Regions from separate parts of the Homo sapiens genome. Here region 2 is linked to region 1. The links come from fine-mapping of genetic effects on gene expression. A gene starts in region 1. The other region holds a variant in brackets. All regions are shown on one strand. Distances are from middle to middle.

Region 1 (2,907 bases):
GGCCAACACCTTCGGAAAGCGCAGGCTCTCCTCCAATGGCCCAGATGCACGTGAGCCGCCGCTCCGCGGAGCGTGGGAGAGGGCTCTCCCTGGAAACTCCACAGAGTTGGAGTCGGAAGAGATCAACGAGGTTTAAACTCGGAGGCATTGCACGATACAAAGGGGATTTGGAGCGCTAGGGGAGGTGACCCTAAAGAACGGGACTATCTGGGTGCAAAGTGACGGCAGATCAACTCACCTGCCTGGTGAAGAGGATGGCAGTGTCCCAGTACTCGGGGTGCTTGTCACTCACTTTGTTCAGCTTCTTCTGCCAGGCACAGAAGTTGCGCAGCGTCAGGGCCGCATTGCCGGTGACCTTGGGCCCGGAGTCACGATCTCTAAGAAGCAGCACCTTGACCACAACGATGTTGATGGGGTTGAGGATGCTGGGATGGCGGTAGAGTCGCGCCGCCGTTGCCAGCAGCGTCAGCAGATAATGTTCCAGGTCCGCGCCGTGGAACTTGACCATTGACTCGTCCGCGACCACCAGCGTCTCCACGTACCGCGGGATAGACACGAAACGCTTGGCGCGCCCAGACCTGCGCCGGCTACGACTCTCCCCGAAGCCCGCCCGCCGCGGCTTGTAAGGGTCCAGGGCCCGTAGGATGGCGGGGTTCCAGCCCGAGGCCACCCCGCAGCGAGAGGTGGGGTCTCCGGAAGGCCCGCCCGGAACACCCCGGCGCTGGAGAAGGTGTGCGCCCTGGCTGTTGCGCTGCGCCGCCGGCGCGCTAGCATTGGGCAGCGGGCTAATGACATACTCGGCGCCTCGGTAGCCAAAGGCTCCGCGGAGCCCCCCGCACAGGCTCACAGCAGCGAACGAGTCCGGCTCGGCGTTCACGTCCCCAGAATAGAAGCAGCGTCGCAGGTCTGAAGAGCCCCCGGTGAGCCCCTGGAGGGGGACGCCCAGATGCTCAGTGGAGAAGGCGGGAGCCAAGAACTGAGCATCCGGCGTCAGGTGTAGGTAAAAGTCCTCCTGAAATGCTGTGATCTGAAAAATGAGTCCCTGATCCCCGGAGTCCTCGGGACCCCGCCAGTAGTAGCGGCGGCCGTTAATGTCCGGGTCCAGTCGGATGGGAACGACTACCTCCCGCTCTGGCTCAGAGCCTCCAGCGGTTCGCCCGGCGAAAGCCAGGGTTAGGATGCCCAGCAGAAGCATGGCGCCGGGCAGCGCACCGCCGCGCTGTGGGAAGGGGCTGGGCCGGGCTCTCCGGCCGCTGCCGCGGTCTCCGTGCAGCCCGCACTCTGGAACCGCCAACGCTACGGGACAGCCGGCAGTTCCCAGAAAGGAGAGCCAAGGGAGGGAGACTCCTCCCAGGGCGGCGAGCGTGCACCCGGCAGCCCGCGCTTCCTACCTGTGCCTTTCCAAGCAAAGCGCGCCCTGGGAGCTTAAGTACAATCGCTGTCAAGTGCAAGGACGAAGATTTGCAGCCGAGAACTAGCGGAAGGTGCCGGGCGGCTTCTCGCAACCGCAGCCACTCGCAGCGCAGCAAGCCAGGCGCTGGGCGAGCCTATTAAAGGCCCCCTCCTCTTTGGACGGCCCAGTCAGCGCCCCTCCCCTCACTCCCCTCCCAGCCTCCCAGAGCTCGCTGCCGGAGCCTCCAGGGGCCACCGGAGAACTCGGTCCCGCCTCCAGAGCGGAGAGCCACTTGGCGGGGAGGGAGTGGCATTGAGCTGAGGCAGGAGGCGTGGGCTGGCCCGAGAAACCGGCGCTGAAGTCTCAGTTTGCGTTTTGCTCTTGGTTATGCCCCACTGTCCCGACGCCTCACTCGCTTCTGCCCCCGCGGACAGCGTTCACTCTCTGGGTCTTAGTCTTTTATCTCAGGGCAGATCAGGTCAGCAGCTAGGAATGAAGACCCTTCACTGACCCGTCCCCAGGCCCACCTCATCCCTGCTGTTGCAACATCCCTGCTGTTTCTTAATCACAGAGTCCCCTAAAAGACCCAGAATCAAGAACCACCCCCCCCCCCGCGTAAATGTCCTATTGCCAGAAGAGCAATAGGACAGGGGCATGGGAGCCCTCTGGAACCCAAGACCGCCTAGCCCCAAGGTCTGCCCTGGGCCCATGGTGTGCTGGATGGGCTGGGGCAAACTCTTCAGTTCTCAGGAATCTTGCCAGCCAGCTGTTAATCACGGACATTATTAAAAATTAAACTAAACACACTTACAATTAAACAAAGTGTATATATATATATGCACACACACACACATACATATATATACACATACATATATATATATACATACACACACACACACACACACACACATATATATATATATTTTTTTTTTTTTGAGACGGAGTTTTGCTCTTGTTGCCCAGGCTGGAGTGCAATGACGCGATCTCAGCTCACCGCAAACTCCGCCTTCCGGGTTCAAGCCATTCTCCTGTCTCAGCCTCCCAAGTAGCTGGAATTACAGGCATGCACCACCACGCCCAGCTAATTTTGTATTTTTAGTAAAGACAGGGTTTCTCCATGTTGGTCAGGCTGGTCTCGAACTACCGACCTCGGGTGATCCTCCTACCTTGGTTTCCTACCTCCTACCTTGGTCTCCTGAGTAACTGCGACCACAGACACACGACACCACGCTAGGCCAATTTGTGTGTGTGTGTGTGTGTGTGTGTGTGTGTGTGTGTGTGTGTGTGTATTTTTGGTAGAGACTGGGTTTCGCCGTGTTGCCCAGGCTGGTCTTGAACTCCTGAGCTCAAGCAATCCACCCACCTCGGCCTCCCGGTGCGGGGACTACAGGCGTGAGCCACCATGCCTAGCCACAAAGTACATTTTTAAAAGGTAATAAATACTCAAAACCCGTCGCTTCCTAAGTATTTGATAATTACTTATGGTCTTGAGCCACCAGAACCGCCAACCC
Region 2 (2,907 bases), 71 kb before region 1:
TCAAGGACAATGGCAAAGCACTTGAAGATTACATATGTATTCTATATGACATATACCCAAGTACTGTATATATAATGTATATCTTACGTATGTCTCTCCAAGTGCTTTGCCATTGTCCTTGTTAGGGTTTGGATTTATGTCCCCACCCAAATCTCATGCTGAATTGTAATCCCCAGTGTTGGAGGAGGGGCCTCGTGGGAGGTAATTAGGTCATGGGGGCAGACTTCCCCTTTACTGTTCTCCTGATAGTGAGTTCTCACAAGATCTGGTTGTTTAAAAGTGGGTGCCACTTCCCACTTCACACTCTTCCTCCTTCTGGCCATATAAGACATGCCTGCTCCCTCTTCACCTCCTGCCATGATTGTAAGTTTCCTGAGGCCTCCCCAGCCATGCTTCTCATACAGCCCACAGAACCATGAGCCAATTAAACCTCTTTTCTTTATAAATTACCCAGTCTCAGGTAGTCCTTTATAGCCATGTGAGAATTTTATATATATATATATATATATACACCATTTATATATATACCATATATATATATATGTATATATACACATACACACACACACATATATATACACATATATATAGCTCCAAGGATATTATATCAATAGTATATAAACTATTGATTTTTTCAGCATGAATAAATGAAGATGCTATCATATCATATGATCATCTGTCTATTTGTCTGCATTCTCCACTAGACAGTGAGCTCTTTTAGAGCAGGGATCATGACTTCTATTTTACATATCTCTTAAGTCAGTGTTTAGGATACAGCAGACACTCAAAAACTAACTGATGAATGAATAAATACCAAAATTCTGGGTCACCCTACCCAGCACATATACAATCAACTGAGGCAGAAAAGTCCAACTCACCACTCACCCCTCCCCAGTCTTTTTAATTTCCCAGCAGAATCCCAAGTGGAACGTTCCAGGAGAGGCCTGGCTTTAATTTTAAGAGATAAAGACAGCCAAGTGCTGGATAAATGCCTTATCCTGGTTTTCAAACCCTTTTCTCCTTATTCCCCAAGACTCCCACGTCTGCCTTCCTCCCTGACGCCTCCCAGGCAACACCCAAGCTGTCCTGTGCTCCACCCCGAGTAGCCCTCCTTTCCCACACAGCTTGTGACACCACTGCCCACCCCCAGGGATACAGAGGAAACCAGCCACCTCCAAGGCCAGGCAGG[C/T]GGTGCCATTCCCACAGCCATCACCCATAATCCTTCAACACCAACCAGCTCCGCTGGAAGCAGCCCAAAGGCCTCTAATGCTGAGAGTGACATCCAAACCAGAGCTTTCCGTGAGTGTGAGGCTGGAAAGACCACACACAGAAGACGTGCACAGGCCTCCACCCAGGCCTCACACAGACACCCAGATCGCTACACCTCACACACCATGATACACACAACAGTCCCTCTCGGGATATCCTGCCGCCTCCACCCCAGACAAAAACAATGCTGTTAAGTACATGGCCCACTTAACAGTCTTTTTCTGAGCCTGCAGAACCTTCCATCCACTCACCATCACATTCAGATGCGTTGTGCTATAGCAGAAGGGAGAGACCAGGCCTCACACAGACACCCAGATCGCTACACCTCACACACCATGATACACACAACAGTCCCTCTCGGGGTATCCTGCTGCCTCCACCCCAGACAAAAACAATGCTGTTAAGTACATGGCCCACTTAACAGTCTTTTTCTGAGCCTGCAGAACCTTCCATCCACTCGCCATCACACTCAGACGCGTTGTGCTATAGCAGAAGGGAGAGACCGGAGCCTAAAGCAGGAATGTGACCTTCAGGTTGCATAACCCCCTGGAAAGATGGGGAAACCCAAGTGCACGCTAAATGTCAAGTACTATCTATTCTAGGAATTTTAGGAAGAAAAAAAAAACAAAAACAAAAACAAAACAGAAAAAAAAACCCACTAATATCCCTCCTTTTTTGGCAAGAAGAATGAGGTCTGTGATGCCAGCAATTCTGGCCGTGTGCTTGGTGGAGATTCCACGGTCCGCTCTCAGCCCCAGGTTCACCCTGAGCGGCTCCACCTTGGTTTGTTTTATGTACAAACTAAGTAAACTTTAGTTTGAAGGAAGAATGCCATAGCTAAAAACATGTTCATGCAGTTCCCATATCTCCACTTCTACCCAAACTTGGAGGTTCAACCTGTATGAAGCTTTGGCCCCACCTCTTCCCCTCCCCTTCAGCCTTCTCTGCACTCTTACACATACTCACACATGTCGTTCCTTCTAAGCCATGGCTTGTTGTTCTTGGCTAGGAAAGGGCTACTTGCAGATACCAGGCCTGAATGGCAAAGAAGGCCAAGGTGGCCACCAGCCTTTGCTCTGGGGCCAATATTTTGTCTGGCAAGGATGTTTATACTCCCAGCATCAAGCTCCAGAATGCCGAAACACAGCTTTCTGCTACCTCCTTGGACCCTGGGGTCCCCTAATCCTTTGGGTTTCTGCAAACCCAGAACTCTGTGTTGGGAAACATGGGGTAGAGGATAGGAGAGATGTGATCTTGAAGCTATTGCTGGGAAATAGAAGAATTTGTGGAAAATCACTCAGCTGTTCTCTAGTTTGTCTTCCCACAAAAACTTGGTTCTAGGAGGAGGCCGTTTCTGACGTTCTTTAAGTTATCCATAGATATCACTATATGCATGACCCAGCCCTGGGCACTAAGAGGAGAACAAAAAGAAAGATTTCCTGTCTATAAGGAACCAACTATTCTATCTATAAGAATCCAACCATCCAATGGAGAGAGAAGACATAGCCCAGTGGGATCTTCCTGCCTATCACACAGACAAAACCAATTCACCAAAACCATGGCATTGCAATAAAGAAAGAGTTTAACTGATGCAAGACCAGCCATACCACGTGGGAGACAGAATTATTACTGAAATCA

Alleles and levels. Alleles are on the strand shown, and positions count from the first base shown. SD is a standard deviation of normalised expression in the study named.
In carriers of allele C in region 2, the expression in pancreas of the gene that starts at base 1,524 in region 1 tends to be lower than with T alone (large effect, 1.1 SD a copy in GTEx).

The links. PIP is the estimated chance that this variant, and not a neighbour inherited with it, causes the effect.
Region 2: its variant is fine-mapped to the expression of ADAMTS15 in pancreas (GTEx, PIP above 0.99).

Annotation. Positions count from the first base shown.
Region 1 is chr11:130,447,262-130,450,168 of GRCh38, reverse strand. ADAMTS15 (ADAM metallopeptidase with thrombospondin type 1 motif 15) reads right to left here and starts at 1,524. Exons shown (of 8, transcript NM_139055.4): 1 at 239-1,524. The coding sequence starts at 1,195.
Region 2 is chr11:130,518,667-130,521,573 of GRCh38, reverse strand. No RefSeq gene overlaps it. Among named protein-coding and RNA genes, the nearest start is that of ADAMTS15, 71 kb to the right of the region's middle. RefSeq lists an enhancer at 1,185-1,686. The variant C/T (reference allele first, on the strand shown) is at 1,190.